Regions from separate parts of the Homo sapiens genome. Here region 2 is linked to region 1. Evidence: fine-mapped expression QTL. A gene starts in region 1. The other region holds a variant in brackets. All regions are shown on one strand. Distances are between the middles of the regions.

Region 1 (5,372 bases):
GGTTTCTTCATCTATAAAATGGGACTCATAATAATACAACAATACACAGACTTACTGCCTGTGATTCTTGGGAAAAATCAAATGAGGAAGTGCATGTAAAGCCCTTATTCTACAATCCCATGCTACTGCTGTTCTAGGTTCTGTGCTCAGTGAGCACAATTTTATTTAATCCTCACTCAGCTGTGAGAGATATTGATCTACCCATTTTGCAGATGAGGAAACTGAGGCTCAGAGAGATGATGCAACTTGCTCAAGGCCCTACAGCTTGCTCAGAGGCTGCATTGGAATCCAAGTCTTAAACTGGACAAGGTTAGACTGCCCTGTTTTTCTGGAGGTGAGGCAGGGAGATGGGGAAGGGATTTGGCATCAGCAGATTTACTGGGATTTTCAGCATCCTACGCTGCAAGGTAGTGATGGCTCGGCGGGGCGGGTGGCATGGGGTGGGTGTCTGCTCACCTGTGTCCTGGCGAAACTGGTGCATGGACTGCAGGTCGATGATGTAGGGCACAAGCTGGGCGTCCACCTGCCCCAGGACCACGGAACCGCGAGCGTCCTCCTTCAGCACGTTCTCAATGTGGTGGCACACGGTGGCCGTGTAGGGCCGCCAGCGGCTGTGCTCATTCAGCCACTCCCACACCACCACCCGGGCCACGTTCTGCGGTGGGAAGCCCAGACCATTCACAGGCATCAGCCCACCGTGGCCTGGCCGTGACATGGCCGCCACTGCCTCAGGGGCCAGGTCCCCCACTATTGCAGGCCCAGCTCCTCCTGGGCCTGGCAGCAGGCGGCAACTTCCTCTCTCCCCAGGGGGACAGCAAGGACCGTCTGGCCTCCTTTCTAACTCTGGGTTCTCTCTGAGGCCTAGAGACCTCCGTTAAAGGAATGTGGGATGGCCATCCAGGCTGCAAAGACCCCTTCCCTGTAGAGCCTTCTCCGATAAAGGGTGCTGCCCTGGAAAGCAAGTGTCTCTCTTATGCCGGAGGAAACAGCTCTAAAGTCCTTGGCCCCCTCGGCTGGCTCAGGTAGGGAGTGAGGCAGCCGCCCCTGTTCGAGGTCCAGCCTCTTCCGTGTTGTCTCTTGGTCCCTCTTCCCCGCCAGACAGGGCCTGTCACCCAGGAGGCCTGGGCCACAGCCTGCTGCTCCTGCGGCTCTCAGCCAGCCCTTTGCACTCCCAACTGCGTCCCAGACCCTGCGCCCGGCTTCAGTGGGGCTTCTCGCCTCCCTCCGGTCTGGGCCCCCTTCTCCGACGGCTCCTGCCGAAGGGGGCGTCCCTGCCCCCTTGTTCCCTCTCCACGGTGTCCTGGAAGGCCTGGGTGGCCGCAGAACGCACGGGGGAGGGGTGCGGCGTGGACCCTCGGGCGGCGCGCCTGGACTGCGGCTCCGGAGCTGGGCTGGGGGACGAGGGGGACGAGGGGGGCGGGGGCCCGTGGGCACGCCCCACCCCACTCGTGCTCGCGACCTGCCAGGAGACAAGAGGGGAGAGGGCCCTTTAAGAGGAGAGCGCAGCACCCCCTCCCCCCTTCCCAGGAGAGCATTCGGCTGAGAACAATGGGGAACCGAAGGGGGACAGCAAGGGGGGCGTACGGGGTCGCCCCGCCCGCTTTCCCTTGGGGCAGGCCTGGAGGGAAGGCAGGGGCCGGGGGCGCGGTTTTCCGAGACTCTCCGCCTGGGGGGCGCCCTCCTTGGCTCCCGGAGCCTTCCCTTCCCCCGGGGCCCTCGCCCTGCCGGGGGGATGCCGGGTGCGCTGGGGTGCGCCGGGAAGCACGGGGATGCGCGGCGCTGCAGGCGCGGCCCAGGGCCCCTCGGGGGTCGCGTCGCGGAGGGGGCGAAGCCAGGAGCTGGATCGTCTCTGCCTCCCGCCCTGGGGGTAACAGCCCCGCTTCCCCAGCCCAGACGTCCCCGAGCCGCTCGCGGGCCCCCAGCGGGAGCCGGGGGTGGGGTCCCTAAGCACCCGCGTTCTCACCGCCTCTCTTCGTCTCCGGCTCCGGCTCCGGCTCGCGCTCCAGCACCGCCGCCTCCTGGGCTCCCCCCGGAGTGGGAGGGAGCCGCGGTCCCGCCTCCGCGCCCGTTCCCTCCCAGGCCCCTCGGCCGCCGCGCCGAGCTTTCCGCGCGTGGACAGACTGCCCGGCCGACGGACGGACGCAGGAGCCGGCTGGCGGCCGCCGGGATCTCGCGGGTGGGAGGAGGCCTCGGCCGTGCTCCGGGAGGGAGAGGGGAGGGGGCGGAGGAGGAGGAAGGGGAGGAGACAGATCTCGGCCCTGAGCGCCACCGGCGCTGACACGCGAGTCTCGGGGCGCCCCAAATCCTCGGCCAGGCCCTCCCGAGACCCCAAGGGGCCTTCTGACCCCAAGCAGAGCGTGAGGCAGGGAGTGGGATGTTTAGGAGTCACCGGCTTGAATCTTTGTCATCTTTATTTCCAGTCTCCCAGTCCAGGGCCTGGCACTGAATAGGTGCTCAATAAATGCTTGAATGAATGAATAAGATCCAGAGACTGTCTAAAGAAAGATCTTGAAGCATTCAGAGCTAGCCTCCTTTCCTCCTCTAACTATTCCTGGGGGTGGGAGGGTGCTGACAAGGCCTGATTCAGACTCAGTTGGAACCGTGGAATCTGAAGAGTACAGATGAGGAGACTGAAGCCAGAGAGAGTAAGAGCCAGGCCCAGGATCACAAAAGCTTAGAGCGATGCCCAGACACCAACCCCGATCTGAATCTCCTGCCAGTACCCAGTTCCCAGCCCTGAGCCCACTTCCCCCAAAGCACCCACCTGCTCCAGGTGAGAGGGGTGGGACCAGGGGAGGGGACCCTGGCCAGGAGGTGAGATCCTGGAGGAAGAGAAGGGCAGGCCCTCTGCCATGTCATTCACAGCCACCTGCAAACAACTGGTGCTCAATAAATGGTGGGTGAGCATTGGTTGGATGGAAGGGAAGGCTGGAAATGGCAGCGGCTCAAGTGTTAACGGGATGGCCAGTCCCCCTGTCCTCCAGCAAGCTGGATGCGGCTGAGACACACATTGGCTGGGAGGGGGGTGGACCACCTGGGGCCTGGGGGTGTTTAGATTGGGGAAGATGAAGGATGCGTCCGGGAACTCCAGCCTGGGTGGCTGACGGGGGTCAGTGGCCTGTTTGGGCGCCTGCCCAGAGCAGCCCACGCCTGCCTCCCCGGGGCAGATGGGGATACACTAGGCAGGGTCAGGGGCAGGCTGCTCAGGGGTGCTTTCCCAGAATCCAGCTCTGGCTCTCCGGCCAGCTGGAGGGACCTCCCCTCCCCAGGCCCCTGCTCTGACCTGCAGCCCAGTGTTGGATGGGCTTTTTCAGATTGGGTCAATGATTCTGCTTGCTTTCACCTGCTGTAGACTAAAGAGAGAGGCTTTGCATAGGGCAGGGCCAAGTCTGACGATACTCCCACAGGATCACTGAGTTCTGGGATTTTAGCCTAGGGTCCCTGGATGGCCTTCTGGGGTCCATGAAGTCCCCCTCTCCCATTACAGGCAAACTTGTGTGTCTAGGCATTGTGTGTCTTGTATGTCTGGGAAGAAGGGCTCTGGCTGTCAGCAGATTCTTCTCACAGGAGACTGTGACTGAACGGATTCAGAGCAGGTGCTCAACCAGCTTATGTTGTAGAAGGATCTGGGGATCCCACAGTGGAGAAGAGATTGGCTCAAGGTCGCATGGTGATTTAGCAGCAAATTGGAAAGAAGAACTCGTGTCTCTGGACTTCCTGTCGAATGCTATTTAAGGTCTGATTAAATGTCACCTCCTCCAGGAAGCCTTTCCTGAATTCACCCCATCTTCCTCTGTGTTCCTTTGCCCATACCTTGACATGACACCCTGTATCACAATTAGCCTCTTAAATGAAATCTGTCCCTGCTAGAGTGAGATAGCCATCATATTCATCTTGGTGTGGTGTGGCTGGTGCCCCATTACATAAGGGTGTCATTTACTGAGTGCCTATTATGTGCCAGGCACTTAAATAATACTTACTACTCTTCATAACTGCCCCACAAGGAAGGTAATGTTGTCCTCATTTTACACAAGGAAACAAAAAACCTCCTGAAGCTCAGAAAGGCTAAGTAGCTTACCCAAGTTCCCACAAGGAGTAAGTGGCAGAGCTAGGGTCTGAGTCCCAAATGCTTTTGCACCTCCCATAGCACCATGCTGCCTCTGTGTTTGTTGAGTGACTACTGGATGGCACCCAGCTGAGGATCTGGTGCAGAGTGGCCCTTAATGGCCCCTCTCAACTGGGTTTGGAACATCTGGGAATGCAACACTCTGCTCCCAGGGAACTTGGGGAGAAAAGAATTCCAAGGAGAGGGAAGGAATTTGGCCACCAAGGAGCCCACAATTCATGGGAGGGATGGCTCAGATACCAATGGGGAAGTCAATAGGACAAAAGCAAAAGCAATCAATCATGAACTGTTTTTTTTTTTTTGGTCCATTGAGGCATTTTATTCATATGAATTTATTACATCCCTAGAAAAACAATCCCAGGATTTTCCCTCCTGTGTATTTTTGTCTTGCTTCCTTGCAATCCCTGATACCAGCTGAGGTTGTCAGGACAATGAAACCAAAGGGGATAGGGGTACCATTTTTCTAGATCTTTGAGTTGCACATCAAACTGGGGCTTGTCACTGTACACTTGTTTAACCTGCCTGTGAGGTCCACAGTGATTTTTCTAGCTCTGTGATTATTGATGATTGCAAATTCACTGATGTAAACTAAACTTCATCATCACACTTAGAAACTAGATGATGATTTTGGAACACAACCTAAAACAACCTGGTATTTGCTTCTCTTCTCAGCATGTTGATGCTATTGAGAACACTGGCCAGGACGTTCACATGCACCATTATAGCAGCTCAGAAAGATGGCAGAAAGAGACCAACTCATTTTTTTTGTTCTGCCATCCACCATCCACTTATCCATCCACCCGTCTATCCATTCATCTATCCACCCATCCTCCATCCATCCATTCCACCCATCCATCCACCCACCCACCCACCCACCCACCCATCCATCCAGTCATTCACCCATCCACCCACTCATCCATCATCCATTCATCCATACACCCACCCACCCATCATCCATCCATCAATCCATCTATCCATTTATTCATCCATTCATCTATACATTCATGTATGAAATTTCCCACCTTCCTTGCTTCCCTTCCTCCATCTCTCCCTTCCTTCCTTCCTTCCTCTTTTTATTTTTATTTTTTTAAGATGGAATCTTGCTCTGTCACCAGGCTGGAGCACAGTGGCGCAATCTCAGCTCACTGAAACCTCTGACTCCCTGGTTCAAGTGATTCTCCTGCCTCAGCCTCCCAAGTAGCTGCAATTAGAGGCACGTGCCACCACGCCCAGCTAATTTTTATAT
Region 2 (5,372 bases), 33 kb before region 1:
TAACTTCTCTCCATCTTAGAGAGGAAACCACAAAACTGCTGCAGTGACAACCTTGAACAAGTCACTTAACTTCTTGATCCTCAGTTACCTTATCTGTAAAACAGGCATATTAACACCTCACTTATAGTCGTTGGGAGGACTGAAGGAGAGCTTGCGGTGATGTGTACAGTGTGTCTGCCTGAGTCCTCCTGACTTCAGCACCTGTTTATGCAGGGGAACTGGTGTCTTGCTGTTGATGGGCATGGAACCCAGGCTGGATACGTTCTGATGAAGAGGGGTGTTCTGAAATCCAGGGGTCAGCCTGAAGGCCTTGGGGGATGTGCCAGGAGAGGGGGCAGGAAGGGCTGGGAGCAGTGACAGCTGGAGAAGGAGCTGCAGCAGCCCCCTTGGCTCTGGCCGTGCCTGTTCAGGTCACAGCCTGTCTAATGCTGTCTGGTCACCTGTCCTTGGCAGGCACAGTTGGCACCAGAAAGCATCTTCAAGCAAATGGTGCCCTTGGCAGGCTTGGGTACTGCTGCAGTGGGTGCAGACACACAGACATACACACCCAGGGCACACACCATCCACACAGATCCACAGATCCAAATATACACACATGCATGGAGAAGACCACACAGACTTATCATACTCCCCGGGACACATTACACACACATGTTTAAGTACACAGACACACAAACACACACAACCCAGGGAGTACATCACAGATACATGCACACACAGACACACAGATACCAGGGAGCCTCCCTCCCCATCCGTCTACTTGGGGAACATACCGCACACACTAGGGAATGCACACCATGAACATATACATGGATACACACAGGCACACTTCAGGGCACGCCCCCCACAAACATACATGGATTAAGATACACACACACTCACATATTCCAGGGAATGCCTCCCCACACCTACATACAGAGACTTGTGCACACACGGGGACACACACATACACACAGAAGCACACACAGCTCTCCCCTGGGAGGATACTCCATTGGACAAGAGTCGGTGGCTCATGTAGACCAGTACCGCACCTGCTACTGCCGCCCCTCTCCCCAGCTGCACAGAGCTGGGTAAGGTGGGCAGCAAACCCAGAGGAGCATGCGCTCAGCCCTACAAGCCCCCGGCGCGCTGCAGCCTGCAGAACGGCCTGCCGTCCACACGCGGACACACGATTCCGCACCGCCTGTGGGGAAGTACTCGTGCGTACTGATTCACATCATGCATGGGGGCGCAGGAGGACACGCTGACTCACTGCACACGAGGACACATGCGCACATGCTCTGACCCACACCTCCTGACACTGACACACAGACACTCAGCCTGGGAGGCCCACACCTGCACACATGCAGAGGCACAATCACACATGCACACAGGTGCAGCGCACACACACCCACTTGGTGGCTGCTCGGCTATACAGGATAGTATCACGTGGCCAGGACTCCCATCCCAGACCCCTCTGAGGGCTGTGGAGAGGTCTGGAGCAGACATCTGGATTGAGCCCCTTGAGGAGGCGCCGGTGTGATGGAAGTCAATGAACACAGCTCCCGAGGGAGGCAGGATGGGATGGCGGGTACCCTGGGTCCCCCAGGACCTGGTCAGTGGAGGTGGGAAGAAAGCACTGTGCCTCAGTTTCCCCACCTGTAATGGGGATAGAGTCCTGTGAAAGTTAAATGTGCTAAAACATGTAAAGCTCATCATTTGGCGCAGGGATGAGAGTGGAGGTGTCTTGATTTTCTTGTCGGGCACCCTGCGGGGGGGCCCCAGGAAGAGGGGCACTGAGTATTCATTTGACCCTTCTCAGGGTCTGTCATAATCCTCCAGGGCCTTCCTCAGGGGGGCAGCTGTCACCACTCTAACTTCCTCCCTCTCTATACTTTTATAGGAATGCATAGAGGCATTTCCCTCAAGCTTTTCCTCTTTCCTGCCCATTCTTCAAGCACCTCTAGTGCAGACAACCTGGTTAAGTCTAGGTCTGCCTCACCCCTCTTTCTTCCTTTCTGCCTCACAAGAAGAAAGTATCTCTTTTTTTCTCCAGGACTACCTATAAATTGGGTGGAAAGAAAAATATTGAGCATGCATACCACCACTGGTTGGTCTCCTGCCTGTGGCAGACATCACTAATCCATCACAGCACTCTCTCAAGCTTAGCAGAGTCCTCAGTACAGCTCTCCAAGCAGCCTCTATCAATCAGTATAGCCAGTTTGCTACCCCAGGTCTATATAATGCCCAGTCTGGCCCAGTGGGTAACCCTGCTCTTGCTGAGTGTTTGGTCTAGGAGTTAGACAGAGGGTACTCCAGGAAGGGAAGGATTTAGATCTCAGCTGCCCTAAAATTTCTGGAGCCCCTTAAATACCACATAGCCCTAGATTACAAAAGTCAGTCTTGCTCCTGGGAAGAGCACTGTGAGTGGGGTGTCACTGTGGGACTGTTATTTATTTACCCATCAGTGAGCCTGGGGGACAGTCCCGAGGTAGTCTCCAGCTTCTCTCTAACTGCAGGCCTCCTGCGAGAACCCAGGGTAGCAGAGTTCCCACGAACCCTGAGCGTGGGAGCCACCCGGCCCCCTTTTGATGTGGGACACGCTGTTTCCTCCGAGTCAGTGAGAACATCCT[CCTG/G]CCTGGACAAGCGACCGCTGCCTGCGGGCCTCCCGGAAGGGGAGCCAGCCTTCACCCCTAGCTCTGCCTTCTTGGGGGCCCAGGCTGGCACAGGACCTGAGGAGTCCCTCAGGCCCTCCCCGAAATCTACTCTGACCAGAAGGCAGGCATGGGCCCCACTGCCATGCAAGCCTCTCTGCCTTTCCCAGTCCCAAATCAGATCCCATCTGTCCTCTGCTCTCACTCCTCCTGCAGCTCCCACTTTGCTCACAGTTAACACCTGGCCTCCTGATCTGGCCCCCATCTACCCTCTGAACCTCATTTCCTATGTGTTCACCCCTCTCCCACTCCACTCCAGCCACCCTGGTCTCTCTGCTCTTTCTCAAGCATGCCAGGCACACTCCCACCCCAGGGCCTTTGCACTTGCTGACCCTTTCCCAAGGTGCTCTTCCCAGATATCCTCATGGCACACTCCCTCACTTAGCACAGGTCTCTGCTCAAATGTCAGCTTATCTGAGACACCTTCCCGACCACTTTATTTAGTTATTTATTTATAGACAAGATCTTGCTCTGTTGTCCTGGCTAGAGTGCAGTGGCTTAACCATTGCTTACTGCAGTCTTGAACTCCTGGGCTCAAGCGATCTTCCCACCTCAGCCTCTTGAGTAGCTGGGACTACTGGCACACACCACCACACCCAGCTTAAACAACAACAACAACAACAACAACAAAACTTTTGAGGAGACAGGGCCTCGCTGTGTTGCCCAGGCTGGTCTGGACCTGACCTCCTGGGCTCAAGTAGTCCTCCCTCCTCGACCTCCCAAAGTGCTGGGTTTACAGGCATAAGCCACTGTGCCTGGCCGCAACCACTTTATTTTTAAAAAGCCCATCTTTGTCCTTACCTTACTGAATTCTTTTTTCATAGCACTAATCACGACCTGACATTATAGTCTTTTTTTAAAATTATACTTTAAGTTCTAGGGTACATGTGCACAACGTGCAGGTTTGTTAAATATGTATACATGTGCCATGCTGGTGTGCTGCGCCCATTAACTCATCATTTACATTAGATATATCTCCTAATGTTATCCCTCTTTAAGCATGACCAGGCCCTGTATGATCTGGTCCACGCCGCCTCTTCTGCCAGACAAAGTTAGAGCAGGAATGTCAAATATATGAGTGCATACCACTACTGTCCTCCTAGCACCCACAGCAGGCATTACTAATCAATTTCGGCATGCCTTACCGCTAAGCCAAGATGCAACTTCAGAATCCTCCTCAACACAGTGCTCCAGGAAGTCACTGCCCTGGAGCAGAGATGGCACATGAGATGAACTCTATTTGTCATTTATTTTGCAGATGATGGGACTGAAGCCCAGAGAAGGGAAATGACTTCACTAAGGTCACCCAGCTGGTTGGTGGTGCAGCTGGCACTGGGTCCTGGAGTTTCCGAGTCAGGGGCCAGGGCTGACCCTGCCAGGTTGGTCTGTGGAGCCATCTGGAGTTGAGCCAGCCTAGAGAGCCCTCTGTGCTCTACAGGTGGGCTGAAGTCTTTGACCTGGATCCTGGAGCTGGCTCAGGCCTGGGCAGGGTAGATCAGGGCTGTCTAACTGGATCCATTGGCCTGCTTTGGCCACCTCTCTCTGTCCCCTAGAGGGGTCCAGGATCCCGAAACACTGACAACTGACCCTCCCTTTAGGGCAGCCAAGTCCCCTCCCTCCTCCAAAGTCTGGTCTCCTTATCTCTCCCCTCCCACCCCCAGCAGGCCTAGACTTGTTACTTTCTCTGATGCTAGTTTCCAGGTCCCCCATTGGCCTTGGCCCCCTTCAGGATACCTCACACTTACCCAGCAGACCCCAAAGAGCCCCAGGAGCCTCAGGACTCAGTCATTTGGGGCCAAGTGGGTGAGGAGGGGGCAGAAGTGAGGATGTCACTTTATGGGGAGAAGGAAGTTGAACAGTGCTTTAGGGACCCCCCACCCTCTCCCTTTCTCCTTTCTAGGGGTGTGAGCCTGTCACCTTTCCCCACTTTCAGGGCTGTCTCTGCCTCATAGCTGCCTTCTCCCCCTCCTCCCCCCACAGTCCTGGGGAACACAGCCTGGGGCCAAGTCCCTGCCGCCACCCCCACTGCAGAGACTTGAAGGACATCGCTGCAAGCCCGGGGGACCAGGTGCCCATGGACTCCTCCTCAGCTGCTGTCTGGGGTCCTCACTTCCCCTTTCCTTACCCCAGCACCTCCGTCTGCCTAGACAAACCTCTGAGCTTCTCTGGGCTTCAGTGTCCCCTCTGTGAAATGGGACCCCTTACTTCTGTCTTCTAGACCCCTTACTTCCATGTTCTAGAGATTAAAGGATGTAAAAGTCCCCTCGGGAGACATTTTGAGGTGTGAGTGGTATTGGAGGCTCAGATTTATCTAGAGGTATGGGGGCTGCGGGGGTCACTCTTCAACCCTCCCGGTCCTCCAGCCTGCCCAGCTCTCTGCGGGGGAAGGAACGGGAGGAGATGGTTGGGGGCAGGGAGGACCGGTCAGGTAGGGGAGGGGAGGGCAGGACCGGCTGTTCCCACGGCCCGGGGCAGCCACGTGCAGACAGGAGTGTGTGTGGTTTGGTCTCCCAGGGAGCAGGGCAGGAAGTGCTTCAGGTGGGGGGCAGGGTGGGGGGAGTGTTTGGTTTGACCTTGCAGCAGCGGTGAGGCGGGGTGACAGTCACTGCACACCAGTGGCTAGCGGGGCAGAAAAGTGGGGGAGGGTGGGCAGCCAGGGGCCTGGTGGGGTCCTTGACT

Evidence for each region. PIP is the estimated chance that this variant, and not a neighbour inherited with it, causes the effect.
Region 2: its variant is fine-mapped to the expression of DTX1 in whole blood (TOPMed, PIP above 0.99). The same link has a PIP of 0.9 or more in blood mononuclear cells.

The regions. Positions count from the first base shown.
Region 1 is chr12:113,053,536-113,058,907 of GRCh38, reverse strand. It overlaps DTX1 (deltex E3 ubiquitin ligase 1), which reads right to left and starts at 2,178. Exons shown (of 10, transcript NM_004416.3): 1 at 1,964-2,178; 2 at 457-1,459. The coding sequence starts at 715. It also overlaps the pseudogene RPS15AP32. RefSeq lists an enhancer at 152-940.
Region 2 is chr12:113,086,791-113,092,162 of GRCh38, reverse strand. All of the region lies in intron 3 of DTX1 (deltex E3 ubiquitin ligase 1), which reads right to left. Among named protein-coding and RNA genes, the nearest start is that of DTX1, 33 kb to the right of the region's middle. RefSeq lists a silencer at 5,250-5,339. The variant CCTG/G (reference allele first, on the strand shown) is at 2,613.